Homo sapiens: one gene and its partners. The protein of the gene in region 7 purifies or fractionates together with the protein of the main gene of each other region. This does not show direct contact. Each region holds a gene or a part of one and is shown on either strand. Other genes may lie near its edges.

Evidence for each region.
Region 1: the proteins of CAMKK1 (region 7) and RMP64 purify together in Homo sapiens (affinity purification with mass spectrometry; one large-scale study listed by BioGRID and IntAct). This does not show direct contact.
Region 2: the proteins of CAMKK1 (region 7) and SAFB2 purify together in Homo sapiens (affinity purification with mass spectrometry; one large-scale study listed by BioGRID and IntAct). This does not show direct contact.
Region 3: the proteins of CAMKK1 (region 7) and ANXA7 purify together in Homo sapiens (affinity purification with mass spectrometry, with the first as the bait; one large-scale study listed by BioGRID). This does not show direct contact.
Region 4: the proteins of CAMKK1 (region 7) and GLB1 purify together in Homo sapiens (affinity purification with mass spectrometry; one large-scale study listed by BioGRID and IntAct). This does not show direct contact.
Region 5: the proteins of CAMKK1 (region 7) and BRINP1 purify together in Homo sapiens (affinity purification with mass spectrometry; one large-scale study listed by BioGRID and IntAct). This does not show direct contact.
Region 6: the proteins of CAMKK1 (region 7) and ELAC2 purify together in Homo sapiens (affinity purification with mass spectrometry; one large-scale study listed by BioGRID and IntAct). This does not show direct contact.

What each region holds. Positions count from the first base shown.
Region 1 is NC_000003.12:113,009,009-113,013,171, reverse strand, and holds part of RMP64 (nucleolus and neural progenitor protein), read left to right. Parts: intron 1-360; coding exon 361-438; intron 439-1,765; coding exon 1,766-2,127; intron 2,128-2,467; coding exon 2,468-2,529; intron 2,530-4,163. UniProt on the Homo sapiens protein: May play a role in cortex development as part of the Notch signaling pathway. Downstream of Notch may repress the expression of proneural genes and inhibit neuronal differentiation thereby maintaining neural progenitors.
Region 2 is NC_000019.10:5,595,123-5,599,285, forward strand, and holds part of SAFB2 (scaffold attachment factor B2), read right to left. Parts: intron 3,763-4,163; coding exon 3,671-3,762; intron 376-3,670; coding exon 239-375; intron 1-238. UniProt on the Homo sapiens protein: Binds to scaffold/matrix attachment region (S/MAR) DNA. Can function as an estrogen receptor corepressor and can also inhibit cell proliferation.
Region 3 is NC_000010.11:73,396,723-73,400,885, forward strand, and holds part of ANXA7 (annexin A7), read right to left. Parts: intron 4,136-4,163; 5' UTR 4,135-4,135; coding exon 4,081-4,134; intron 1,664-4,080; coding exon 1,459-1,663; intron 553-1,458; coding exon 442-552; intron 1-441. UniProt on the Homo sapiens protein: Calcium/phospholipid-binding protein which promotes membrane fusion and is involved in exocytosis.
Region 4 is NC_000003.12:33,009,717-33,013,879, reverse strand, and holds part of GLB1 (beta-galactosidase isoform a preproprotein), read left to right. Parts: intron 1-4,163.
Region 5 is NC_000009.12:119,204,773-119,208,935, reverse strand, and holds part of BRINP1 (BMP/retinoic acid-inducible neural-specific protein 1 precursor), read left to right. Parts: coding exon 1-217; intron 218-4,163. UniProt on the Homo sapiens protein: Plays a role in neurogenesis and brain development. May suppress cell cycle progression in postmitotic neurons by inhibiting G1/S transition.
Region 6 is NC_000017.11:13,011,027-13,015,189, forward strand, and holds part of ELAC2 (zinc phosphodiesterase ELAC protein 2), read right to left. Parts: intron 3,471-4,163; coding exon 3,413-3,470; intron 2,250-3,412; coding exon 2,181-2,249; intron 757-2,180; coding exon 637-756; intron 1-636. UniProt on the Homo sapiens protein: Zinc phosphodiesterase, which displays mitochondrial tRNA 3'-processing endonuclease activity. Involved in tRNA maturation, by removing a 3'-trailer from precursor tRNA.
Region 7 is NC_000017.11:3,865,383-3,869,545, forward strand, and holds part of CAMKK1 (calcium/calmodulin-dependent protein kinase kinase 1), read right to left. Parts: coding exon 4,105-4,163; intron 630-4,104; coding exon 526-629; coding exon of another isoform or gene 522-525; exon of another isoform or gene 1-521. UniProt on the Homo sapiens protein: Calcium/calmodulin-dependent protein kinase that belongs to a proposed calcium-triggered signaling cascade involved in a number of cellular processes. Phosphorylates CAMK1, CAMK1D, CAMK1G and CAMK4. Involved in regulating cell apoptosis.

The DNA of each region.
Region 1 (4,163 bases), on a different chromosome or scaffold from region 7:
CAACCTACAGGAATTCTTAAACTTTTGCTTCTTGGCCTCCTTTTCTCAGGAATTGCCTGATGCAGCCATTGCCAGAGACTGCCTGTCACTGTTCAGCACGTATTATCCTAAGAGCATTGATAGCTAGAAATTCTTAATCTTAGAAACTAAACTTTAAGAACTAAATTTAATAATGGGAACTCTAGCAGAGTGTTTATAACCATATTTTAAAGTTTTAAATTCTTAAATAGAATGTGTTTTAAGGCTTTAATACCTTTAAGAAAATTCTCTTTACTTCCAATATATTTCTTCATTCATGATTGTAACTTACAAAACCCACATTACTTTGATTTTGTTTTCTACCTTAAATTGATTTTCCAGTTTGACTGTGAAACATCTAGGTTTGCAAGAGTTCATTATTTTAAACCTTGTGATGGTTGGGCTGGTGAGCAGGTTATGGTATGTACATACCTCTGACATCCTTCATTTCTTTCTCATCTCCTTTCAGCCTAGGTTTCTTATTAGTAGTTTTCAAACTTATTTTCTTATGGGGTTATGGAAGGTGCAGGTATTCTCTTTCTTGGTTTGATCAGAGTTTTTTGAGGGTAGATTGGGAAGCCGAGTGCTGATGGCTGTATCAAAGGAGTAGGCTTTGTATCTCAATCCACAAGATCAGCCCAATCACTGAACAACTAAAAAAATCGGGAGTGACTGGTGTCACACTGAAATCTGGGTCATGGTAGGTTGTAGTGAAACATCAGTGGGCTTTTACTGAACATTAAAAAAATTAATGCCTGTGACTGGGAATTGCAGTAATAAAAAATTGTTGGTAGTAGTCATATTGCAACAGGCCGTTTAAAATGATGCTAATCCTGGGCTGGCTGTATCACTTGATTCTTTCTGTCACTCGGTTTCTAATTTTTAATGGCAATGATAAATGCAATTTTTGACCTTCTTATGTGCTAGACTATTTTCTTCCATCTCAAACACCACTGCTTTTTTGAGCATATTTAGTTGATGTATGCTGGTAATACTTGGAAACTAAAGAGACATCTCTTTCATGTCTCTCAGTACATATTGTGAAACTGATCTGATGGATAATTAGAATTTGCCCGTATCTGTAAGAAGGCCTGTTTTGGGCCATTTCAAACAATTAAGATTATTAGTTCTAATATGAATGTAAGAAAACATTGGATGGAGAAAAGAAAAAAAGTTTCTGTGTTTAGAGATTGAAAACCTTGCTTTGATATCTTAACCTGGATATCTCAAATAGTATTTCCTATTGTTTTATTTTTTATTCTACTTATTCTTAATCAGAGGTAACAATGTTTGATTACTAATCATATTATTTTAAAATGCTAAACCTTTGATACTCTCTTCTGTAATGAAAATAGCTTTAATTTTTGCTGATTATAATACATGCCTGTTTTAAGAAATTTAAAAAGAGAAATGTGAAGAACCTGAAATTTGCCTAAAATCTCACCATCTACCACACTTAAAACTTTGATATGCATCCTTTTGTACATTTCTCCATGTAGTACTTTTTGAATATATATATATCTTTCCTGGTAGACTGTCTTACAGTTTTTTGAGTAACATTTTATACTTGGATTTTTCTGTTGGGTTGGACTAATCTGGCTGTTCGCAAGTGTGCACTATAGTGTTTTTTATCTGTACTGGAGGACCTTGATAGCCATTTATTTTCAGCTTTCAATCTTGCAGTTTATTATGTAATCTGCAAATTGTAATTACTGGCTAATTAATGAGCTCCTATTTCTTTCTCTAGGGTTCTCTATAAAGGTGTCTTAAAAAGGTTGATTTTGTTATATGAGCCTTTGTTTGGATTGCTTCAAGAGGTCGCTAGGATTCAACCAATGCCTTACTTCAAAGATTTTACCTTTCCTTCTGATATCACTGAATTTTTAGGACAGCCATATTTTGAAGCCTTTAAGAAAAAAATGCCTATAGCTTTTGCAGCTAAAGGAATAAATAAATTGCTAAATAAACTGTTTTTAATAAATGAGCAGTCACCAAGAGCCAGTGAAGAAACCTTGCTTGGAATTTCAAAAAAAGCTAAACAAATGAAGATCAATGTACAGAATAATGTGGATCTTGGACAGCCAGTAAAGAATAAGAGAGTCTTCAAAGGTAATTTGCTTTGATACAGCACATACTCTAGTAAAACAAAAAACAAATAAAAAGAAACCTTTTGAAAGTAATAGTCATGCATTGCATAGAAAGAAATTCAACATCTCACATCTTAATTTTGACTCATATTGATTAGAGAGGTATGGTAATACCTGTGCTTTCTAAGCTTGAGTACTTTAAGTTGTTTATTTGTTTCTGTAGTTGCTTCCTAGTTATTTGCTTGCTTTATTCCTTTATTTTGTGGTAATTTGGCAAGAAATGTCATGCACTTAAGAATTTGTTGTAGATTTGAAAATAGTATGCCTAAGGTTTTGTATCTGCAATTTTTCCACCTCCACAGAAGAGTCATCAGAATTTGATGTGAGGGCTTTCTGCAACCAGCTGAAACACAAAGCTACTCAGGTTTGTCTGGCTTCATTAAATTTAGCTTATGATTTCTGCTAATTTGTAGAGGATGCTTCTTACCAAGGGCAGAGATTGAATCTTTTCATTTTATCCCCAGCTCTAAGCTTAGTGCCTTCTTAGTTGTCAGTGTGTGCTTCTGAATGAATAGAGGCAAGGGATTTTTAATACATCTAGTTAATTCAGTTAATAGAGTACCTTCAGAAATATTTTAGTAGGAGTTTCTCTAGAATTTTAAAGTAACCGTAAGATCTGTTGTTAAGTATGGATTGTACTGCAGCTTAAGAGTATAGGCTTTGCAGTCAGACAGTTGGTTTGAATCCTGGCTTTGGTACTAGCTGTGTGACCTTCTGTGAGTTTCCTGATCTCTCCGTACCTCTATTTTGTAATAGTAATATGTGCCTCATAGGGTTGTGCTAGTTTTAATGCATGTAAAGCGTTCGGTAGTCTGGAGTATGGTAAGCATTTAATTGGAGTTAGATGTTATTAGCTACGGTCATTTTGGTCATCATCCTCATCATTTTGTCATGAAGCTATTCCTTTACTCCTGTTGAGGTTCAAGTTTTAACATGATTGATTAATGTCTGTAAATTCTGTTTGTTCTGGACCTAACAGCATATAAGTACATCGGCATTACTGTTTTACTCAGTAACTTGACTTTTTTTTTTTTTTAACCCTGTCTTTGCAAAATGTCTACTTCTGGTATTTTTCATGGGTTAGTTTACTTCTTTTATTTAAGAATTCTTAAACATATTTTCTTGAACTTAAGGACTCCAGCTTCCATTGATGTTCTGTCCAATTTATGAATTCAGAGTGAGGAGTAATACTTTCTGTGCCAGGCATTGTTCTAAGTGCTTTTATATGCATGAAGTCATGTAATTATATCACAAAAGCTCTGTGAGGTGGGCATGCTTATTACTGTTTTCATATTTCAGATGAGGAAACTGAGGCATAGAAAGGCCAAGAAACTGCCAGGCCACATAGTGAATAAATGGTAGAGCTGCGATTTGAATGCAGGCAGTATGGTTTCATAGTCTTTCTTCTTTACTATTCACCAGTCCCCAGAACAGTTTTTCAACTGTATCTCAAGAACTATGGTGCTTTGTGAACCTTGAAACTTCTGCAGCCTGTGCACCTGTTTGTAGGTGAGCTGGCTTTGAAGTTGGTGGGTCAGCATCCCTCTTACTCAAAACTAACTGCTACTATATTTTTAGCAAATAGCACTAACTTGCTTAGCTTTAAAGCAAACTACTTCTATTGATCACCAAACATAAACTATTGACCTGGGTCATTACTTTTATATTTTCTACTTTTTTTTAAAGTTCCTTTTGAGTGTAAGAAATTTGGAAGAAGGTAAGCTTTGAATGAAAGAGCAGATCATCTCGTAGGCAGCATATTTTCATAAAGAAATAGTAAACGTTAGTAAAATCCAAATGTGACTTGATATAGAAAGAAGGGGTTGAAGAAGTAAAGGTGCCTTGTCAGAAGATGGTTGAAGTAGAATTGGAAGTGTTGCTCAATTGAGCATTTTTAATAGATATTCAGCAGGCATTAACTGATTAATGGGCTTATTCTGCTGGGCACTCTGCAGGGCCCCATATCTTCCCTGTTTTCAGAAACATTTCTAAATTGAG
Region 2 (4,163 bases), on a different chromosome or scaffold from region 7:
ACAGGTGTGAGCCACTGCACCTGGCCCTTTGATGACTTTCATGCCACCTGGCATGTCTGGCGGCTCACGTGTGAACAGGTGCTGGCCCCTGCCTCGAGGACCCAGGTTAAGCACGACACCCGCCAGCCCAGGCACTGGCTCTCGGGCACACAGACTGCGCACTCCAAGTACAGCTGGGAGAAGGACAGCCACCCCGAGAGGAAACCACCAGCCCACAGCCTCACCCAGCTCCACTCACCGCCGCCTCTCCGTTTCGCGGATCTCCCGTTCCCGCTGCCTCTGGCGCTCTCTCTCCCTTTGTTCTTTGATTTTATCAAACGACAAGATGTCTCTCTTTTCTTTGCTTTCTGACTTGCGATCCTGACTCTTGGAGCTCTGTTTACCAAAACTGGTTTATTAATGTCAGGAAAATGATTGCAACAAACAAACAATGGAGATTATGCACGTGTGCATGAGACTAAGATTCTCTGGCCCCACATGGTGTAGATGGAAGGCTGTGGTCTCCAGACCAGAGGCCCAGGCATAGGCTGCTTCCCTCCAAGTTTGCATTTTACTGCCTAATCCAGAATCCTGCTTTCAGATGTCAAGGGGCATTCATGGAAGAGAAGAGGTTGGCCCACGCCTCAGAAAACCTACAGGCACAGTTCTTCTAGCATAGCACAGCCAAGGACTCACATAATCCAAAGCAAACCTAGGCCTCTCAGAGCCACGGGCACATCCGCACAGGGCCACTGTGGCCATTAGTTCAGAGGGGACAGCAGTCAGGCCAGCTGTTTGGACAGCTGGAGGGCAGACTACATGTTTCACATCTCAACTGCTGGCTCAGGACTCAGGCAGACAGCTCTAAATAGAATATGCCAGGCCGGGCGCAGTGGCTCACACCTGTAATCCCAGCATTTCAGGAGGCCAAGGTGGGCGGATCACAACATCAGGAGTTCGAGACCAGCCTGACCAACATGGTGAAACCCCGTCTCAACTAAAAATACAAAAATTAGCTAGGCGTGGTGGCGCATGCCTGTAATCCCAGCTACTTAAGAGGCTGAAGCAGAAGAATCGCTTGAACCTGGGAAGCAGAGGTGGCAGTGAGCTGAGATTGCGCCACTGTACTCCAGCCTGGGTGACAGAGCGGGACTCCGTCTCAAATAAATAAAGAGAATATGCCAAAATGCTTTAATGCAAAACAGTGCTCCTAATAAGGTACAGAACACTAATAGCCAACTTCCGTAATTTATTTTTTGTAGGTTTTTTGGGTTTGAGACCCAGTCTTGTTCTGTTGTCCAGCCTGGAGTACAGTGGCTCAGTCACAGCTCACTGCAGGATCAAGTGATCCTCCCACCTCAGCCTCCTCAGTAGCTGAGACCACAGGTGCACACCACCATGCCTGACTAATTTTTCTATTTTTGTAGAGACAGGGTTTCGCCCTATTGTCCAGGCTGGTCTCAAACTCCTGAGCTCAAGTGATCTGCTGCTTCATCCTCCCAAAGTGCCGGGATTACAGGTGTGAGCCACCGCACCCAGCCTACATTCATCATTTTCTATCTGTGGCATAAAGCTCAGAGCTGTAACAACTGACTCCCATTTCCAAGGTTCTCCAGGGCCCCTCACCCAAACTGGCTACACATCAGACCCTCCCAGGAAGCTTTTAAACAACACAGAACCTGAGGCCTCCTGCTGATCCACACAGAATCTCTGGGGCAGGGGCCTGGGAAATGACATTTTTAAAAAGCTACTCAGTTTATTTCCCTAATTAGCCCCCATAGGAGAGAAAGAGCGAGCAATGAAAAACAAACCAACCCAACAGAAAGACAGGCAAAGGTCAAGATGAGACATTACACCAATTATTAATAAAATGCAGGCTGGGGAGAAAGGGGCACACAGACACAGGAGAGACACACATCACCCAGCACTTTGATGGCAAGCTTTGCCTACGAGACGGGCAGATGTCTTACACACACTGCAGTAGAATAAGGTGACAGATGCCCACATACCACCGCACAGTGGGCAGCACAGCAGGCAACAGTGTCAGCACGGGACTCCTGGGTTCTCAGGCCAGCTTAGCCACTTACTAGCGACCTGGCAGGTGCAACACACCCAGGAGATTTAAGTCCCCTCCACAACCTTTCTGAACAGCACTTTATTTCAAAATTTAAACGTTAAAAGAGGCTGGGAGTGGTGGCGCACACCTCTAATCCAGCAAGTTTGGAAGATCAAGGCGAGAGAATCACTTGAAGCCAGGCTAAGCAACAAAGTGAGACACTCCCACCCTTTATTTTTTTTAATAGGTAAATATCATGCATAAAATAAAAAATATATGTAAAAGCGAAAAGAAAAAAAAGCAAAAAGGAAAAAAGCCAAACCGTATGTGTCTGTATGTAGAGACCTCCAAGGCATATTACACAGAAAGTGCAAGCTCCAGCACATCCTCTGTCTGTGGTCCCATGGCAGGCACAGGGGACGTGTGTGCAGAGGAAGCCGAGGAGCCCAACTGGACACACGGAGGCTTTAGTATGCCCGTGCTGCATCTCCTCAAGCTGACCAGATGTTCTAATCATGCATGTGTCATCACTACTTGTTTTCAACATCACAGTTACATGGGGGTAAGAGTATGGGTCTTTTTCAATGTTCTACTCTACATTTCTCTGTATCTTATGATTTTCATGTGAAAAATGACATTAGGAACTGATACTTTATAAAATCCAAATGTTCATTTTAAAAACTAAGTCTTGGTTGGGCACGGTGGCTCAAGCCTGTAATCCCAGCACTTTGGGAGGCTGAGGCGGGTGGATCACTTGAGGTCAGGAGTTCGAGACCAGCCTGGCCAACGTGGCAAAATCCCGTCTCTACTAAAAGTAAAAAAATTAGCCTGGTGTGGTGATGTGTGCCTGTTGCCTGTAATCCCAGCTACTCGAGAGGCTGAGGCAGGAGTCGCTTGAACCCAGGAGGCAGTGGTTGCAGTGAGCAGAGATCACGCCACTGCACTCCAGCCTGAGTGACACAGCAAGACTCCATCTCAAAAAAAAAAAAAAAAAAAAGTTAAGTCTTAACAACACAAAGTGGTCCTGGCTGAATATGGTGAACTCCACATTCGTTAAAAAAGTACTGTCACCTCATGAATATCTTAGCTAGAACCTGCAGCTGGGAAGCAGAGGTTTTTATTGTTTCCCAGAGTGAAAAACGCAAATGAGACGCTATTTCGTCTAGTTGTGTGCACAACTCGAGAGGTACAGCTCTTGATCTGATAACATGACCAGCTCTCTGTCCTAGGTTGGTCTCTACCTTTTTGGTTAATTTAATAGGAGACTAAAAAACCAATGGAAGAAAGTAGCCTGCTATTAAGTCAACCAAAGAGTAGGACCTGCCTTCCGGCTCGAAAAGCCTGGGTCTGGCCCATCCCACCCTATGGTGAGCTGCCGTGTGAACCAATGCTCTGTCTGAAGGCGGCACATCCCGGTCAGGAGCCAGTAAGGGAAGCAAACACGGATGGGCACTGCTCTGCAGAAAGCACCAGGATTCATGTGTGTGTCTGTATCCGCAATCTACACAATTATCGCGCCTCCTACAAACTTCAATTTTAAAGGCAAAACAGTGCTGTTTTCATAATGCGGATCAAACGGGCCGTGGAGCCATCGTGAGAAACAGCTGGCCCTGAGATGGCAGAGGCAATACTCACTCTCTCTTTGGACCTGCTTGTGGTTTTCACGCTAATGACGGGCTCTCCTTTCGATTTATCCATCACGACCGTCCGCTCCATTCCTCTGCTTCCTTCAGGAAAAAACACAACAAACTATCAAAACCTGTGGACGCCCCAACTTCCCGCAGTAAACAGCACTCTGATGGACCCTGGGCTTTTGAACACACAAGGCGTGAGTCAAGTGACTGACACTAGCCTTGGGAGCCTCTAATTCTCATCTATTGTGAGCAACACGGTAACACGGGCACAGCATCATGGGGGTACCCTCACAGCTCTTTACACAACTAGAGGGACCTGTTCCCAACCTACAGCTTAAACCTGCAGCACGCACACAAGCACGGCCATCCTGCAGAGCCCTCCGTGACCCTCCACTCTAAACCCACACAGCTCCGGAGCTGGTCTATGCTGTCACTCCTCCCTGACATTCTGTGAAGCTCCGCAGTATCCAGCCTGTGCTAGGAATCACACTGCC
Region 3 (4,163 bases), on a different chromosome or scaffold from region 7:
ATATAATTTACTGAATCTAAAACCAACTTTGGTCATAAGAACCTTTTTAATATTCCATGTTCTACATAAGATCCTCATAAATAATACTTTTTTCACACTTGAATCAGATTAAATTCTGAGTCCACCTGGAATGGTTGTCAGAATACAGTTCTGGGGGTGGTTTTACTATTGGTACAGGAGTGGGCAGAGAAGTTCCTGAAGGCTTCCTTTTGGCTTTGGGACAGATTTTTTTAATAGAAAAAGTGTGACTTTATCTCTATTTTACTGATTAAACTTTTCCATCAATTTAATATATTTCATAAAACCATTATGTTTAAAATTATTTATGGAAATATAAACATTTATTGCAGATTATCTCAAATATAAACTAAGTTCCCTCAATGGTGATTTAAAAACTCAAAATATCATGATACTGTTTTTTTCTGGACAGCTGGTACCTACCAGGTAGTGGAACCTGTGCTGGACCACCTCCATAAGACTGTGAAGGTGGCTGTGGATACCCAGAAAAGCCTGCTCCACCTGGTGGGACTCCAAATCCTTGGCCTGGAGGAACTAGAGAAAAGAACATGTCAATAAACTATAGTACAGTTCTCATGATTGCAGAAAAAACTTTAGAAAAATATCTATTGTTAACAGTGGAAAAATATGCTATTAATGCTATAATAGCAGTCCCTGTTTATCTAGATTCAAAACTTCAAATTCTCCAGTAAAAAATAAGTTTTTAAATTTTTACCTTATATATTTATTTATTTTTTGAGACAGTCTCACTCTGTTGCCTAGGCTGGAGTTTAGTGGCACAATCTTGGCTCACTGCAAACTCTACCTACCACGTTCAAGTGATTTTCCTGCCTCAGCCTCCCAGGTAGGTGGGATTACAGGCATGCACCACCACACCCAGCTAATTTTCATATTTTTAGTAGAGACAGGGTTTCACCATGTTGGCCAAGCTGGTCTCGAACTCCTTGCTTCAAGTGATCCACCCACCTCAACCTCCCAAAGTGTCGGGATTACAGGTGTGAGACACCACACCCAGCCAAAATATTACTTTATTACTCTTCCCTACTAACTTAAAATACAAAAGGGCTAAGGTTTTTTTGTTGTTTTTTGGGGTCTTTTTTACCTTTGAATAAAGCTGACCTAAAGGTCACAGTCTTGCTAATTGAAATGTCTTAATCAGGTCTTAAGACTACAAACAAGCAAAGTGTTACATATTGGTCCTTTATTGCCATGAAATTTATTCCAAGTCCCTTCACAGTGGAATTTTTGAAACTGCTCCCAGCTTTCATGTCCCCAGAGAATCTTCATCCCTCCATCTTGCCAGCTAGGTCCTTACTACCTAAGGTTACCTAAGAGCGACTTGACCTTATACAAAACAAGCAGGAATGAAGAGGATAAAGGGAGAAGGAAAAAGTGCTACAGCAATCCCAATCATTACTAATTCCGCAACCCGTAACTCACCTCCGGGATAGGATGGAGCTCCCCCTGGCTGTGGGGCACCAGGATAGCCTCCAGGGGCTGGATAACCTCCAGGCGCAGGGTAGCCTCCAGCTCCTGGGTAGCCACTACTTGGCACTTGTGGGTAGGCACCTCCTCCCATTGGAGGAAAGCCACTAGGATAAGGATACTGACCAGAAGGGGGAAAAGATGACTCCTGACCTGCAGGCTGAAAAATCAGAATAATTTTTAAACAAATACGATCATAGAGAAATATGACCCATCTAAAAATAAGGAACAAACAGAGGTTATTATTAAGGTCTACCTCATTCTTTTACTTTTTAAAAGTCCCATTAGAAATCCTGGTATCTTATACTAGTTTATCAGTATACCAGTTTGTAAGGACACTTGTTTGTCAGAATTCAGTTAAATTTAATTCTACTTGAGTCAGGCAAGAGGGGTCTGCTTCTCTATTTGGGAGTCAGAACAGGATTCTTTACAAACCTCAAGGTTTTAAGAAAAAAAAAAAACTCATCAGTTCCTTCATTTTCCCAGCATCTACAAATATGAGAAAGATCCTCCTCTATATCCTAAACAGAGGAATTTGAGGCTTTCTTGCAACACATCTGGATCTGTTACATAATATTTAAAAATAAAAAAGGTAACCTGTATATCACATCACACACCGGATGTGACATTTTGGACTTCATGGTTCAGAGCAGCAATATGCAGAGTGGCAGAGATTGTTGCATGTTCACTGAACTCTTTCTCCCCAGGCCACAAAGCTATACAGACTACACTTCCCAGACCCCCTTGCAGTTAGGTCGAACCACATGAATGAATATCAGTAAATGAACATAGACAAAAGTGAGATACACCACTTTCTAAACCTGTCCCCTAAAAACCTCTGGCAAATCCTCCATGCTCTCTCTCTTCCTTCATCTGCCACCCATAAGCAGAGGATCCAGTGGAGGACTCCAAAGTGCTAAAGGATGGTAGGATCAGAATAAGGAAGGAGCCTGGAAACCCAAAACACTGCATGAAACAAAGCCTCGTCCCACCCACCCCCTATCCTCCACTGACGTCCAGGAAACTGAAGAAAGAAATACATTTGTTTTTTCATCGTGTTAAGTCACTGAGATTTGGGAGTTGTCTGTTTTAGCAATTAGCCTACACTGACTGAAATAGTTACTACAGTCCTGTTTAATACATAGGGACTTGGGAACATATCCATAATTCTCATCTCTCCTATGATAAATTCACGAGAGCTATATAATCACTTTGCATAAGGATACATATTATCATAAACTTGTATAGACCCCTCTTCCTATTCTCCCAGGGTTAGATAGCAGCCCCACAGTTATGAGTATAAAACCAAAATGTGGGCTGGGCTAAGTGGCTCATGCCTGTAATCCCAGCGCTTTGGGAGGCCGAGGTGGGCGGATCACGAGGTCAGGAGATTGAGGCCATCCTGGCCAACATTGTGAAACCCCATCTCTACTAAAAATACAAAACCTAGCTGGGCGTGGTGGCACGTACCTGTAATCCCAGCTACTCAGGAGGCTGAGGCAGGAGAATCGCTTGAACCCCAGGAGACGGAGGTTGCAGTGAGTCGAGATCACACCACTGCACTCTAGCCTGGTGACAGAGCGAGACTCCATCTCAAAAACAAAAACAAAAACAAAAACAAAAAACTGAAATGTGGCCAGGCGCAATGGCTCATGCCTATAATCCCAGCACTTTGGGAGGCCAAGGAGGGCAGATCATTTGAGGTCAGGAGTTTGAGACAAGCCTGGCCAACATGGTGAAATTCCGTCTCTACTAAAAATACAAAAAATCAGCCAGGCACAGTGGCGGGCACCTGAAATCCTAGCTACTCGGGAGGCTGAGGCAGGAGAATCACTTGAACCCAGGAGGCATAAGTTGCAGTGAGCTGAGATCACACCACTGCACTCCAGCCTGGGCGCACAGCGAGACTCCATCTCAAAAACACAAACAAACAAACAAACAAAAACTGAAACGCACAATTCTTACTTATGGCTCAGCTCTTAGTCCTCAGAGTAGTATAGCTATCAACAAGGTGGAACTTAGTAGCACATTTATAAAACGTACTCCAAGTCTAAGAACTACAAATCCACTGCAATTTATCTCTGGGTCTAGCCAAGCCGTTAATTATTTTAAACATTCTAACACAAAGGTTAAGATGCAGTGATATTATGACTCAAGGGCATTAAAAAAAAGAAAAAGAACCAGTGATTCATGGGATGGATTTTGCTTACATCCATGTTTTACTGGCTCATACAGCAGTTAACATTTTTTAAAACTAACTCCTAAATTTTGAACCTTTGGGCAATTTCACATAGAACCCAAGTTTCTGGCTTTACTTGAAGGGCTGGAGTATCTAGCAACGCTGAGTGTGCCTCCCTCCATGGCTACACAGGGCTGGTGCTAAGCACCTGCCAGCTTTCAATAGACAAAGCAAGACCTCTCTAGTCCCCCACACAATTGCCTTTCCTCACTTCTACGTAGTACCTCTGAGCATCTGAATTTATGACCCCTGCTCAAGCATATCTGTAAGATCTGACATGGGCCAGTCCCAAACAACACCTGTTTTAAGGATGTGAGGTATTAAGTGGCAATACTTACAGGATATCCAGGGAAAGGTGGGTAGCCTGTTGGGGGATAGCCTGGGTATGACATTCTGTAACAACAATAAAAAATGTCCTCTG
Region 4 (4,163 bases), on a different chromosome or scaffold from region 7:
CGGAGGTGCTGCCATCTGCCCCCTTGTCATTGGCTTCCTGTAGTGAATGACACCATCCTGCCTCCTCCAAGAAGAATCATGACCCCTTTTGATGCTGATTATAGGGGTGCTTTCTCTTTATCTTGAGGACAATCCAGTCAAGACAAAGAGGTGGATCCCTCTGGGAGAGTCTGTCTGGTTTTCATTTATGCCAAGCCCAGTGCTCCCAGAATATCCCCACCTGCATCCAGCCCCACACCCCTGGGGCTTCTATCATAAGCTGTCTGCTTCTCCACTCTTCCTCATCCATTTTCACTTCCCAGTCACTCCGCCTTGTCGTTTGAAGACATTGGCATATCTTCCTTCACCGCCTTCTCCTCTCCCTCATGTCCTGTTTTCATCCTAGATCACCTTACCATCACTCATTCAACACACTTCTCATTCTGTGGCCACTATGTGCCCAAGGTGTGTGCCAGGCACTAAGGATACAATCATGAATAAAACCAAACATGGTCCTTTCCCTCATGGAACTTTCAGTCTAGTGAGGGAGGCAGACTCATATTAAAAAGTAAAACCATAGCTGTGATGGATGCTAAGAAGGGCTATGGGGTTGATAATAATTGGTGCATTTTGCCTTGTCAGGGAGGTCAGGGAAGCCTTCCCTAAGATAGTGATGCTTGTCAGAGATATGAAGGATGAGTAAGAATTAGCATGGCAAGAAGGGAAGAAAGCATGTTCCTGGGAGAGGTAACAGCTTGTGCAAAGGCCATGGGGTTGGAGGGGAAAATGTCAAGTGTGGAAAGTAGGTAGAGACTAGATTGGGACGGGCCTTATAGGCCACGTTAAAGTTTTGTCTTTGTGTTGAGAGCCATTGAAGCAGGAGAGTGACATGATAAGACTGTGATCTGACAAGCTCCTCTGACCCCATTGTGCAGAATGGTTTGGGTAAGGACACTTATGGATTCGAGGAAACCATCTAGGAGGCTGGACCATAGTCTCATTGAGAAACTGGGATGGTGGTATCTAAGATGGAGATGACATCAACTATTTGAGAGATGTTCAAAGTTGGATCAATAAATTGTGACAATGGATTGGACAGGAGGGTTTGGGGAGAGGGATATGTCTCGGATGACTCAGGTCTCAAGCTTGCAGCTGGGCAGAATGGTACCATTTGCTGAAAGAAGCAGCTTCAGAAGGGGACTTAGGCTTAGAAAGGGGGGTCATGAGTTTGAATTTAGACCAATTGTGTTTGAAAAGCTGCCTTAGTCTATTTGGGCTGCTATAACAAAATACCATAAGCTGGGTGGCTTATAAACAACAGGCATTTATTTCTCACAGTTCTGGAGGCTAGGAAGTCTTCAATATCAGGGCACCAGTAGATTTGCTGTCTGGTGAGAGTCTACTTCATCATAGACAGCACCCTCTATGTCCTTACATGGCTGAAGGGGCAAAGGAGCTCTCTTGGGTCTCTTTTATGAGGACACTAATTTCATTCATGAGGGCTCCACCTTCATGACCTAATCACCTCCCAGAGGGGGCCCCACCTCCTAACCCATCACATGGGGGCTAGAATTTTAACAGATGAGTTTTGGGTGGACACAAACATTCAGACCATAGCAGAGGCCTTGGAGAATGGCTGGGAAAGACAGTATTGGAGGAGGGTTGTTGGATCTATAGGCTGGGAATTCAGGGCAGGGATCTGGGCCAGGAATGTATGTAGAAGATCATTGTTGTATAGATGATTGTTGAAAACATGGGCTGGATGAGGTCTCTCAAGGAGAGAGGATGCAGAGGGAAGAAAAGAGGACGTAAGGCTGATGTTTGAGGGACAAAAACATGATGAAGACTGAAGAGGAGAGACCAAACAAGTAGGAAGAAAACCAGCATTTATGCTGCCAAGAGGACAAATAAGATAAAGACAGAAGCACTTCGGTGGTTTTAGAAGCAAGGAGGCCCTTGGGAATCAGTAAGCCTTGTTCCAGTGGAGTGAAGCATCTCCCAGCCAGATTGCATTCTATAGAGAAGACCAGGGTAAGGAATACGAACAGGAATACTTGAATATAAACGTTCTTTTTGAGAAATTTAATTCTGAAGAAGAGGAGAAAATTATGTTAATAGCTGGAGGAGGAGAAGGCAAAAGATGTACATGGTGTGTGTTTAATAAAATGCCCTTTTATTTATTTATGTGTTGCTTGTTTAAAATTTATTGAAATGTATTTTCATTATTCTGTTTGAAATATTTTCTTTTTTTTTTTTTTTTTTGAGATGGACTCTGTCACCTAGGCTGGAGTACAGTGGTGTGATCTCTGCTCACTGCAACCTCTGCCTCCCGGGCTCAAGCAATTCTCCTGCCTCAGCCTCCAGAGTAGCGGGGACTACAGGCACACACCACCACTCCTGGCTAATTTTTTTTATTATTTTTATTTTATTTTTTATTTTTTGTTTTTTTTTTATTTTTATTGGAGACGGGGTTTCATCATGTTGGCCAGGCTGATCTCGGACTCCTGACCTCAAATGAAGTCTCGAAAAGTGCTAGGATAGACATCTGAATTCATTCCAACTTATAGTTATTATAGTTATTATAATACTGCTGTAAACACTTGCATGTAAGTTTTTATGTGAACTTGGCCTCGAAAAGTGCTAGGATTACAAGTGTGAGCCACCACAGCCATCCTGTTAGAAATATTTTCTACTTTCCCATATGATTTCTTCTTTGAACCATAGATTATTAAAAAGTATGTTTTACTGGGTGTGGTGGCTCATGCCTGTAAATCCCAGCACTTTGGGAGGCCGAGACGGGTGGATCACCTGAGGCCAGGAGTTCAAGACCAGCCTGGGCAACATGGCAGAACCCCATTTCTACTAAAAATACAAAAATTAGCCAGGCGTGGTGGTGAGTAACTGTAATCTCAGCTACTTGGGAGACTGAGGTGGGAGAATCTCTCGAACCTGGAAGGCAGAGGCTGCAGTGAGCCAAGAGCATGCCACTGCACTCCAGCCTGGGTGACAAAGCAAGACTGTGTCTCAAAAACAAAACAAAAACAAACAAACAAAAAAAGTATGCTGTTTAATTTCCACATATTTTGGGTTTGTAAAAATATCTTGTAATTATTAATTTGTAACTTAATTCCTCTATAAAACTTCTAAAATTTCTCTCTAGGGAGAGAAATCTCCATGATCTTGGGTTAGGCAAAGACTTCTTAGATTTGACACCTAAGGCATTATCCTTAAAGAACAAAAATTGATAAATTGGACTTTATCAGAATTAAAAATATTTGTTCTTCAAAAAGCATTATTAGGAAAATGAGAATCCAAGCCACAAACTGGGAGAAAAATAATTTTCAAATCATATATCTAACAAAGGACTTATATCTAGAATATGTAAAGAATTCTTACAATTCAATAATAGACAAACAGCCCAGTCACAAAAGGAGCAAAGAACTTGAATAGACATTTTACCAAAGAAGGCATAAGATGGCTAAGTACATTTGCATTTGTATACCTTCTTTGGTAAAATGTCTATTATAAACTAAAATTAGTGGCTGATTAATGTTCAACATTATTAATCATTTGGGAAATGCAAGTCAAAACCAAAATGAAATACTACTTCACACTCACCAAGATGGCTAAATAGTAAGAAGGACAATAGGCAATGTTGGAAAGGACATGGGGGAAAGGGAATCTTCCCACATTGCTGGTAGAAAGATAAGAAGGTACATTTGGGAGCATAGTTTGGCAATTTCTTCAAGGGCTAAACATAGATTACCATAGAACCCAGCAATTCCGCTCCTAGGTATATACACAAGAGAAAGGAAAACATGTTCACATAAAAACTTACATGCAAGTGTTTATAGCAGTATTATAATAACTGTAAGTTGGAATTAATTCAGATGTCTATCACCTGACAAGTGGAGAAAGCATGTATATCCATACGATTCCTCAATAAAAAGGAATGGAGTACTGATAACATGCCACAATCCAGATGAATTGGAAAAATATTATGCTAAGTAAAAGAAGCCAAAACTAAAAGGCTATGTATTGTATGACTCCATTTATATGAAATGTTCAGAAAAGGCAAATCCATAGAGATAGTAGCTTACTGGTTGCCTAGGGCTGAGGGTGGGAATGGAGCGTGACTGTTAAGTGGGCATGGGGTTTCTATTGGAGCTGATGGATATGCTCTG
Region 5 (4,163 bases), on a different chromosome or scaffold from region 7:
TTAAATCATTTATGAAGCGCCTCCCCAGCAACCACTTCCTGACCATCGGAAGCATCCATCAGCACTGGGGCAATGACTGGGACCTGCAGAACCGCTACAAGCTCCTGCAGAGTGCCACGGAGGCACAGAGACAAAAGATCCAACGCACTGCCCGCAAGCTTTTCGGCCTCAGTGTACGCTGTCGCCACAATCCCAACCACCAGCTGCCTAGAGAGAGGTAAGTGTTGCCACCACCTCCACCTCTGCAGGCACCTACCTGGCGTTAGCTACATTATCTTGCTGCAGAGTGAAATGCAATGCAGATGGTGCATTTGTGGGGTGGCAAACAGGACCTCGCATGGTCCAGACCAACAATTTTCTGGATTGCCTCTGGGTCCTCACCTACTGGCTCCACATTGTTTCAGATTCCACATTGTTTCCTGAATGTACCATGAATTTTCAGCCTCTGTGTTCTGTCTGATTCACCTGATTGAGGAGGGGAACACTAGCCCTGATAGTTATGTGGCATTATCCTGGCTGTTAAAAATATATTTCATATTTAATTTTAAAATTACTGAGCAAAGCCAATTTTAGCATCCCCATCTTAATGGTGAAAAAACTGGATTAACTAATTAATCATTCGCCACCTTATTTATGAGGTCCTTTGAGCAGAGCCAGGAGTGAGTGACACAAATAACAAAATGTAATACAAAATGTCAGGAGACACTTGCGGGGTCATTGAGTGCAGGGTCCTCACCTGAGAGAGTGTCACCTTCAGTGCCTGGCTACCTTGCTTGCCTCCCCTAGTTCCAGCCATGTCCTGGATATACCGGGTATTCTGCTAGATGGTGGAGAATACAGAGATGGACAAGACAGGGCCCATGCCTCCATAGAATTAGGGTTTACTACTCTCTCAGGGGCACAGAAGGAAGGAGCCAGGACTTGAATCCAGGTTTTTTGGACTCTATTCTTCCGGGGCATTTCTGATCTGCAGCTGGTAGTTCCTACTGTAGAGGTGCCTCCAGGGTTTCTAAAAGGGCATCACAAGACAGCAAAAGGGCAGGTTGGGGCTCTCTCTCCACCCTGCTTCAGACAGAGCAGCTCTGCTCTTATTTGTTGCATATTTGGGGGTTCTACCTTCAATTTAGTTCTAAGAAAAAGATCCACTCTTAAAAAGAACAAGTCCATTCACATTCACCTAGCATACCCTGTGTCAGTCACATATTTATATATATGATTGTTACCCTGTTGTACAAATCTGGAAATGGAAGCTGAGAGAGGTCAAGTAATTTGTCCAAAGCTACAGTGTAAATCAGTGGTTCTCACTTGGGGGTGACGTTTTCCCCAGGGGACATTTGAAAATATCTCAAGACAATTTTGAGTATCGTAGCAAGGGTTAGGGGTATTATTGCACAGGCAGTTCTCACAACAAAGAAATATGTGACTTCAAAAGTTGCTGGTGCTCAGGCTTAGCAATTCTGATGTAAGAGAGACAAGATGCCAGCTATTTTAGGTTGATGCAAAAGTCATCGTGGTTTTTGCCATTATTTTTTAAGTTTTGCCATTACTTTTAAGTAACAGCAAAAACCACGATGACTTTTGAACCAACTTTAATAAATCTATAAATCAAAATCTTATCTTCCTAACTAGTCTGTTCTACTGGCACTCAACATTTAACAACGGCAGTCTTCTACCACAGTCCATCCACCTAATTACCCCGATGAGGTGCACCCTTTTTTCTCTCGTTTTTCTTGCGTCAGAGCTAATGCTGCTATTCCCTCCATGAAGTCTTTCCTGATTGTACTAGCCAATACAGAAAGCTTCTTATTCTAGATTCCCACTAATCTAAAATCCTTTCCTTAGCATATTTCTCTCTCTTTCCCCCCTTATGAAACCTCCTCCTTGTACAGACATTCAAACTCATCTCTGTTTTCCCTATTCCCTCCAAATTTGAGCCCACTGCTTTGCATCTAGCTTGTGATAATTATATTGTTTTGTGGATCAAATAGAATTTCTTTTGCCAGTTTCTTGTTGCAATGCTGCTGAAGCAGGGACTAGAAAAGGTCACAAACTTACTTTCTTGTCGAGCACAACAGATGCTCAGACTGCTACCACGAGCAAGTCTCTGAAGAAGCTTCCTTTTAGATCCATCACACATCTGCCATGAGACCTGCATCGAGCACTGTGGGAAATTCAGAAATGCACACAGCGAACAGTGCTGTGGAAGATGTCTTGTAGAGCAGGAGTGGGGAGGGGTTCTTTTATCAATCAGACCCCATATGTATTAGTTTATGATGGTTGCCATAACTAAGTACCATGGACTCAGTTGCTTAAACAATAGAAATTTATTTTCTCATAGTTCTGGAGGCCAGAAGTCCAAGATCAAGGTGTCAGCAGGCTTGGTTTCTTCTGAGGCCCCTTTTTCTGGCTTGTGGATGGTTGTTTTTTTCTACCTGTGTTTCCACGTAGTCTTTCCTCTGTGTGCATCTGCGTCCTAATATCCTCTCTCTCTCTCTTTTTTTTTTTTTTTTTTTTTTGAGATGGAGTCTCGCTTTGTTGCCCAGGCTAGAGTGCAGTGTCGCTATCTTGGTTCACTGCAACCTCCGTCTCCCAGGTTCAAGCGATTCTCCTGCTCAGCCTCCCCTTGCGAGTAGCTGGGATTACAGGTGTGCACCACCACACCCAGCTAATTTTTGTATTTTTAGTAGAGACGGAGTTTTGCCGTATGGGCCAGGCTGGTCTCAAACTCTTGGCGTCAGGTGATCCACCCACCTCAGCCTCCCAAAGTGCTAGGATTATAGATATGAGCCACCATGCCCTGTGCTAATATCCTCTCTTAAGAGGATACCAGTTATATTGGATTAGAGCTGACCTAAATGGCCTCATGTTAACTTAATTACCACTTTAAAGACCCTGTCTCCAAACACAGTCACAGTTTGAGATCCTGGGGGCTAGGACTTTAACATATAAGTTTGGAGGGGTATGTAATTCAGCCCAGAATATTATAGGAGGTAGCTTTTGATCAGATCTTTAGGTGAAAAAGCTGTGCATCCCAAGGAGCAACGAAGCTCGATGCAAATCTGATTGAGGAGGGCCATGTTTGACCATGATAAGAATTCAAACAAATAACCTCTTTCAGTTACGGTGATTGTCATCTCAGAAAATGGAGAGTAAGATCCAAAGGTCCCAAAGACATTAGGCAGGCATATTTATTAAAGTTGAGTGAAATCTCCAGAACACCAAGCATCATCAGATATGCTAAGTTCAAGGGAAGACTCGAGAGGATTTTAGAAGGAGGGTAGCTGGATAGGTATTACAAGGGAAGAAGGAGGGACAAAGCTGGGTAATAGGAGTAACACTGGGAAAAGTCAAGGAGTCTGGATTTGTCCTACCACTAGTAAGCTGTGTGTCCTTGGGCAAGTCACTTCACCATGCTCAGTGCAGGTGTCTGCATCTTTGAATAAGTCTCTGCTCTCCTTCTGCAAGTCGTCAGGTGTAAATAGCTAAAAATGCTCTACCATCATGGGACCTTCAAAGAAAGAGCTCACAGTGTTGCCGTCTCTCCTACTAAGGAGGAGAAAACCTGCCCTAATCATCATATTCTTCTCACCTGGAGAGGATGTCTGGCGTTCCACCATTAGCAGGTCACTCAATTATATTAATTTGAGGAATTTTGAGTGCTAGGTACCGAGGGGTAGGAGCACACAGACACTAGGCTCTGTGGCTAATTCCTCTGAAGCCTTCCCAGGAGAGATGAACTTCCTTGGACGGGCTGTGGGCCGCTTCCTGACATCTGAATCTGAGGCTTTAATGAGTATTTCTCACACCGCAGGGCACCTCTCTGGCATGGAGCAGTGTCGGACAGAGGTGCTAACACTGGGAACCTTGGGCCACCTCTAGCTGAGCAAGCTGGTATTTGCAAATGAACTGATTGCATGGTTTCAATGTGTCTGCTTGCTGAAGTCTGTGGAAGATGAGTGTGCTGAGCAGGTGCCATTACTGCAGCAGGTGCCACAGAGATGTTTACTTGTCTCACAAACAGGTGGCTTTGTTAAGGTAAGGTGGGAGAGGGAAAGAGGGAACAAGCACAGGGCCTTAGCCACACATGGACTGGTCCGAATCCTGGCTCCATCACTTACCAGACACAGAGCTTTATGTAAGTCCTGCACCTCATTTGTGAAAGG
Region 6 (4,163 bases), 9.1 Mb from region 7:
CCTGCAGAGAAAATGCTGGTGTCAGTCTTTACCCGGTGCCATCCAAACAAGGACAGCACATAGGGGTCAGCCTGTTCTCAGTCACTAGACAAGACCTCAGGACAGAAAGAGGAGCTGCCGAGCTTTGCCAACGCTGACCTTCTGTTAAGGACAACAAACTCCCGAAGCGGCCTGACTCCTGAGCTACATCTCATCTTGGACTTTTAACTCCGTTTCCCAGTGGGCTGTCATTCTGGAAGACGTGCAGAGCCTCTCACTGATTTGACTGTCTCATTGGCTTAGCAGTTATAGTTTCCACATTAATGGAAAATTTGCATAAATGTTACATTAATGAAAAATACAAAATGAATCCGTTTGTCAGGCCCTGTTCTCCTCTGGGAAAACAGAACACAGTTTTGGGCCTACCCAGACCCTGGGTGGCCAAAACTGTGGACTGGTCATTATTAAAGTTGCAGGCTGCCACCTTTACAACAACCCTTCTCATTCCCCCAACGGGCCAAGTTATAGTAAGCCCAGGAAGAAGGATCTGTTTACACACCTGGCTTTCTTACAATAATGACTCTCTACAAGCATTACAAGGCAGAGAATTAAGAAAACGCAAGCCTTTCTGCTGCTCTGTTTTGTTTATACTATTACCATGTGGAAGGTGTGGCTCATTTTCATTCGACTCGGAGTCTGAAGATCGCTCTGGACTGAGCCTGCTGAGAGGCCTTTCTGGACTCTGCCATGGTTGGTGCTTTCCCCTCCTCTGTTCACCTGGTCAGTACAGATACCACCAAATTACACACTGCACAAGGTGAGCTGACAGCCAAGGCCCAGACGTTCATACATGGGAATGCCAGAACGCCAATTAAATCAGCACACCTTTTACTATACAGTAGGAAATAACTAGTTAGTTAACTTCCTACCTGGTTTCTGGGCTGCACCTATGTCCTATTAATGTTTATGTTTCTGCTTAGCTCACAGCCTCGGCCACAGTACCAACTCAACAACGTGTTATCTAAACAGCATGTGGGTTGTAGACATGCTTATTTATTATCATCACTCCCGCTAAAACACATAGACCCAAAGGGTACCTATCTCAAGAAGGAGCCTCATTTTACATTTAGTTAAGGCTCAAGATCAAGGGAAAAAAATTCGCTGCTCTAAGAAGCTAAAGCACAGCTGCAACGAGAATGAACGTAAGTTCACTCACTGAGGGCCGCTGGACACTGAAAAAACAGTGATCGGCAAAACTGAGCATGTTAACATCGATCACGCAAATCACATATGAAAGTTAACTGTCACATGCCATGGAGCGAAGAACAGGGTGCTGGAAATGGACAACAAACAGGTGGATGCAACTCAGGCTGGGGGTGGCTACAGCAGGGGTCAGGTGAGAGAAGGCATCTGAGCAGGAGGAGCAAGCCAGGCAATGGGAGTGCTGATCAGCTCATCACAGCACTGGCCTAGGAGCACTTGTGCCATTGCTCCGGCACATTCCTCTCCTCCCTGCTGCCTTCTGCCTTCAGTCAGTGTAAGCCTCATCTCCTCGCCAGGTTCTGGACTTCTCTGGCCTTTGCTGGGTGCTCTGGTCTGTCACCCATCAGCACTACTTAGTAAGCATCACATTAGTTAGTACTAACAAGGAAATACCCCTACTGCTTGGTACTCTCTTCACATGTAAGTAAAACCAGACATGAATGTCTTTAGCCAAGTTCAAGGACAAGACTAACTCTTTTCCTAAGCTAAGACCACATCATCTGGCCCTGATACTTCGGAATTTGCAGGAGCTTCTAACCCCCAACAACACTTCTTTTAGGTTGCTGTAATCATTATTTATTTAAAAAAATCTATCTGTGCAAACCTCTTCATGATCGTCTGATCAAAAGAGGGTATTACGCCTGTGGGAAAAAACCTCCAAGCAATGAATGTGCAAACTTGAATGCAATCTATTTACCAACAGTGCTTGATTATCTAATATTCCAAAGCATAATCACTATCATTAGGCATAAGTCAGACATCCGTAAGTTTATAAGCCAGGGCAGGAGCCATATCTTCATTCCTCAACTAAATTTTCTAATCATGCTCAGAACACAAAACAGGGTGCCCACAGCAAGTGTTCAGTTTCTATTTTCATCCATGTTTTCTTTACTCAGGACGTACACCCTCCTCCTGGGAAACCTGGCTTTCATACTCACTGTGTATGGGGATCTGGTAAACTGTCATGGTTTCATCCTCGTATTCTGGGGCAGAGTGGGGCCGCACAGCTACAAGAAAACCACACAACAGCAAAGTGATTGCATTAGTGAAGATGTGTGGGAAGAGTAACTTCAGGATCACCAACCACGAGCAACTGAATTGCCTCAGAATTATGGTGGGAATCTGACACGAAAACCAGACTTTCTAAGGAGATTACCATTTTTAGGAAATAAATAAAAGTGTATTTTGGTCAGCCATTTATATTTACTACAGCCAGATGAAAAGACATTATAATCTTTGGTGACTATCCGTTAAAAATTGAAAAACAAGAAACTAGTACTCAACTTTCAGAGACCCAAGTTAACAAACAGAATAGTGAAGCCAGGGAACCTATCATCGCAAACCAGAAGAGCTGATGTATATTTTGAAACAAAGTATTAGTGTTTCTATAAAAGAGGAGTATTAACAAGCCACAGATACACACCAGTGCCAGGACAAGAGCCCTACTAGCATCCTCAGTGAGGCCTCTTCCCATCAAGAGGCTGTAAGCCCCCCTGCGCAGCTGGAGCTGCGTTTCAATGTACAAAGTTGGCCACAAAACCTCTAGGGAACCCTTGTCACCCCCGCCCCCAACTCAAAGCAACTCAACGACGAGAAGCACCTCTGGAACTGAGGCAGGAGCCCTGCCGTCTGGATGGAGAATGCCACACAGCATGTACACAGGCAGGCATCAGCTGTTCAATCACTCCTGCCGACCTGGCCCCTATTTTTACAGCATGAGGTGGGAACACAGAAAATGTCACTATTTAGAAATCCCATCTCCAGCCACATGGTAGCTCATTTTGGGAGGCTGAGGCGGGCAGATCACAAGGTCAAGAGATCGAGACTATCCTGGCCAACATGGTGAAACCCCGTCTCTACTAAAAATACAAAAAATTAGCTGAGCGTGATGGCATGCGCCTGTAGTCCTAGCTACTCAGGAGGCTGAGGTGGGAGAATGGCTTGAACCCAGGAGGTGGAGGTTGCAGTGAGCCGAGATCATGCCACTGCACTCCAGCCTGGTAAGAAAGCAAGACTCTATCCAAAAAAAAAAAAAAAAAAAAAAATCTCGTGGTGATGAAGCATTTGATTTTGAGGTTTGATGTTGATGTTTTTAATGGATTCTAATTTGAGAGGTCAGGGCATATATAAGTTAGAAATAGCAGAGGATGAGTCACAGACAAAGACGTACCCAGTTCTATTCCTTTCAATGGACCAGAAAATATTTTGATTGCTTCGAGGTATTTTTCCTAATGAAAAACAAAGAAATGAGCAGTTATGGTTGAACAAATGTAGAACACAGCAACTATTCAAGTATTTAAAAGGTTACCAATAGGTATCAACATAAAACAAAGCTTAGTAAATATTTTGAACATCATTTATTACAAATATTTACTGAGTATCCATTATATCAGATGCCAAGGATATAGCAGGAAAAAGAGATGGAGGCCTTGCTCTAATCAGGCCAGTGGAGGAGACAAAAGGAAACACGATAACAGAAACAGCTTAGTGGCATTATGCTAAGTGCTCTGCAAGGAAAATGAAAAATACAGAAGGCTGGGATCCAACTTGTCTAGAGAAGAAGAGGCAGTTCTGGAGTAAATGACCCTCTAGCTGAGCCCTGAAGGTTCAGTAACAATATAGGCAGCAATTAGAAGAGGCAGAGGGAACCCGCGGAAGGGCGAAAGTCCTGAAGTGGCCAGGGAGTTAGAGGGACATAAGAGTCAGCCCATGCAGCTGCAGTTCAGCGATGGGTACAGATGGAAGTGTGGGTAGCGGCCGGGGCCTACAGGACTTGTAGGCCATATCAAGGTGTTTTGATTGTATTGCAATGGGGAGCCCATGAAGGGCTTTAGGGTGGCAAGTGACACACTACTTTTCTGTCTTGAAGTGACCTCTCTGGCTGCTGTGTGGCAGATGGATTACAGGAAGGCGAGAATGAA
Region 7 (4,163 bases):
GCACAGAGCCCCAGCAATGGCTGCAGGCAGCCTGGGCCACTTGGGAGAGCAGCCAACAGTCCCCAGGGCCAGGCAGAGGGGCCAGCACCCCTCCTCTACAGCCCGCCAGCCTCCTACAGGAAGCCAACATCAGCCTGTCTGCAAACCTCTGCCAGGCTGCCAAGGGCTGAGGGGGCCACAGATTTGAAGCCCCAGAGGGGCTGGACCCAGTGAGAGAGTGACATCAAGCTGCATGGAAGAAGGGTCTTCCTGTCCCATGGAGGGGCTGCGTGAGCTCCTCATCCCTGGAAGTGTGTGTGTGAGGGATGCTGGCCCCAGGAATGAAGCAAGAGCTGGGCCCAAAAGGTCCCTTCTAGCCCCGACTAACCTTGGGGACAGAGATGCAAATGGGGCCAACACCGAGACCTGGCCAAGTCCCCAGGCTCTGGCCTTGGCCCAACGACAGTGAGAGTGGGAGGATGGGCCTCAGACCTCCCCACCCAACTCCAGGGAGTGCCCGGCAGTCCCTGGCCCACCAGTACTTACACCAGTAGGTTTCCTGGAGCAGACATGGATCGCTCTTCCCTCCGTGCTTGGGGCTCAAACGGGTTCCCAAAGGAACGCTTCCTCAGCATGGACTTCACCAGGATCTGAGGAGGACAAGGCAGCGTGAGGAGCACAGGTCCCAGGCTCCCAGACACGCAGCCTCTGCTCCGATTCCCCGAGAGCAGCTGCCAAGGGGGCCGCAGTGCGGGTCCCATCTCAATCAGCACAGCATGAAATGGCAGAGGCAAGAACACGGGGCGCTGGCAGCTGGGGGCATATTCCTGGAATGGTGAGGAGCCGGATGCCACTGGTACATGAGGAGGGGGCCGGGACCAGCCCATGAAGGGTCCGCAAGGCCAGGCTGAAAGAGTGGGGAGGGCCAGGGCTGGAAGTGGGAGTCCATTAGAAGATACCTTCTCGCTACGGCAGCAATGCCATGGAGGGATGCTGTGCCATCCTTCCCGCCTTCCGGCCGCCGAGAAGATGCCAAGATGCTACTGCAGGGCGGCCCGGGAAGCGGCTGAGCCGCAGCCGGTGGCCCAGTCAGTGGGGCTGCCAGGAGGGGAACAGCTGCCGCAGCCTGGCTCTCTGCCTTTGTCCCTCCTCCGTGACAAGGACGGTTCCATGCCGTGCCCACAGACACGCCGACTCACACGCATGCAGAGAGGCAGCGGCACACTTGCCAGTCCCTTCACTCCCTCGCTTGTGTCCATCCATCCCGTCAACACTGGTCACCACTGGCTGCCTACTGGGTGCTGGCCACTACTCTAGGCCCTGGGGCCACACTGAGGCCAGAATTCCTGCCCTCATATAGCCTTTTTTTTTTTTCAGACGGAGTTTTGCTCTTGTTGCCCAGGGCTGGAGTGCAGTGGCACAATCTCGGCTCACTGCAACCTCTGCCTCCCCGCTTCAAATGATCCTTCCGCCTCAGTCTCCTGAATAGCTGGGATTACAGGCGTCCACCACCACACCCGGCTAATTTTTTGTATTTTTAGAAGAGACGGGGCTTCAGCATGTTGGCCAGGCTGGTCTCAAACTCCTGACCTCAAGTGATCCTCCCGCCTTGGCCTCCCAAAGTGCTGGGATTACAGGCGTGAGCCACTGCGCCCAGCCATCATACAGCTTATATTCTAGTTGGGGGAGACAGGCGATAAGTAAAGAAGAAAAATCAGTAAATTATGTATGTCAGTAAGTGGAAAGGAAAAAATAAAACAAGGGAATGGCGATGAGGTGTGAAGCAGGGGAGGCTGAAGCTACAGGGTCAGGGAAGGCTCGCTTCTCTCTAGGAGGGGACCCTGGCGTAAAAAGCCGAAGGAAGTGAGGGAGCGAGTCCCGTGGCCATCGGGGGTGGGACTCCCCGGGCAGAGGGAAGCGAAGTCTGAAGGCTCTGGGGCAGCCCCTTCCATGGCACGTGGCCAGAGACGAGTGCATGATGGCGGGACGGTGCACGAGCCCCGCAGAAAAACAGGGCGGGTGGTGGGGCACAGGCTGGAGGTCTGATTCTGAGGGACACAGCAGCCCGAGTGAGAAGCAGGCTCTGAGCTGGGAGGTGACACACTCATGCCACTGGGACCATGCTGGGTGCTGAGTTGAGCATTGACCAGGGGGACAGGGAGTGAGAGTAGAAGCAAGGGACAGCGTGGGAGGTTGTTCCAGTGGTCTGAGAGAGAGGAGATGGTGGCTAAGATCAGGCAAGTGGTCATGGGGACCCCGTGGGAGTTGCCTGGTTCCAGCGACCCCACAGAGTCAAGTAAGCATAGGGGGCAGGGATTGAGCCAGCTGGTCCCAGCTGGGCCGGGACCCTGCAGAGGGGGATAAAGTGCAAGGCCAGGCCCCGCCAACGGCAGTGGCCCTGGCTCTCCTCCTGGCCTTGTGCTTGCCCTGACTCACTTGACTGTCAGGCAGGGGCAGGGCAGGGCTCTCAGTGGCCCCAGGTGGCCACGGGGGACTATGTGAATCACTTCCAAGTGCCAACACAGAAGCTGAGCAGAGGAAGAGGAGCAAAACCGAAATGTGAGCGGGCACTAGGGGAGACACAGGCACTGTCTAATGGATACGCAGGATCTGGGGGAGATGCAGGCACCGTCTAACTGATACGCGGGCTCTGGGGGAGAAGCAGGCGCCGTCTAACTGATACACAGGATCTGGGGGAGAAGCAGGCGCAGTCTAACTGATACGTGGGCTCTGGGGGAGAAGCAGGCGCCGTCTAACTGATACGTGGGCTCTGGGGGAGAAGCAGGCGCCGTCTAACTGATACGTGGGCTCTGGGGGAGAAGCAGGCGCCGTCTAACTGATACGTGGGCTCTGGGGGAGAAGCAGGCGCCGTCTAACTGATACGTGGGCTCTGGGGGAGAAGCAGGCGCCGTCTAACTGATACGTGGGCACGGGGGAGATGCAGGCACCGTCTAACTGATACACAGGATCTGGGGGAGACGCAGGCACTGCCTGATTGATACGCGGGCGCTGGGGGAGACGCAGGCCCATCTAACTGATATGTGGGCTCTGGGGGAGACACAGGTGCTGCCTAACTGATACGTGGGCTCTGGGGGAGACGCAGGCGCCGCCTAACTGATACGTGGGCTTTGGGGCCACTCCTCCAATCCAAAGGCTGCCCAGGCCGTTCCCCTGCCTTGTCCTCGGCACCTTGTGCAGTGCCTGGAGAACGGAAGCTCAGTAACTGTCTGGACGGAATGAAATGCTTCTTCCAGTCACGGTGACTGCTGCCGCTGAGCAAGGGCCATCTATTTCTTTCTTTTTTTTTTTGAGATGGAGTCTCGTTCTGTCAACCAGGCTGGAGTGCAATGGCGTGATCTTGGCTCACTACAACCTCCACCTCCCAGGTTCAAGCGATTCTCCTGCCTCGGCCTCCCCAGTAGCTGGGACTACAGGTGCCCACCACTGCGCCCGGCTAATTTTTTTGTATTTTTAGTAGAGGTGGGGTTTCGCCGTATTAGCCAGGATGGTCTCGATCTCCTGACCTCGTGATCCACCCGCCTCGGCCTCCCAAAGTGCTGGGATTCCAGGCGTGAGCCACCGCGCCCGGTATTTCTTTCTTTTCTTTTCTTCTTTTTTTTTTTTTGAGACGCAGTCTCGCTCTGTGGCCCAGGCTGGAGTGCAGTGGCGCGATCTCGGCTCACGGCAAACTCCACCTCCCGGGTTCACACCATTCTCCTGCCTCAGCCTCCCGAGTAGCTGGGACTACACGCGCCCGCCACCACGCCCAGCTAATTTTCTATATTTTTAGTAGAGTCGGGGTTTCAAGGATGGTCTCGATCTCCTGACCTCGTGATCTGCCCGCCTTGGCCTCCCAAAGTGCTGGGATTACAGGCGTGAGCCACCGCGCCCGGCCCCACGCCCGCTATTTCTTTAAATCAGTCACTCTCCTCACCAAGCCTCCTGGTCTCCCGACCACAAGACCTCCCTCTCCATGGGCCTCCAGCAGAATGGCGGCTCCAGTGGCCCAGGATCACAGCTGGCTGGCCAGGCAGGCCTCTGTCCCCCCAAGGAGCCAGGCACAGAGCAAGGCTCAGGTCCCCCAGGCCCTCCAGGACAAGGGAGCATCTACCCCGGCTCTCTTACCACCGTGGTCCAGCTGGGGATGAGCCTGACTGAGTTCTTAACCTCCTCCTCTGTCACCT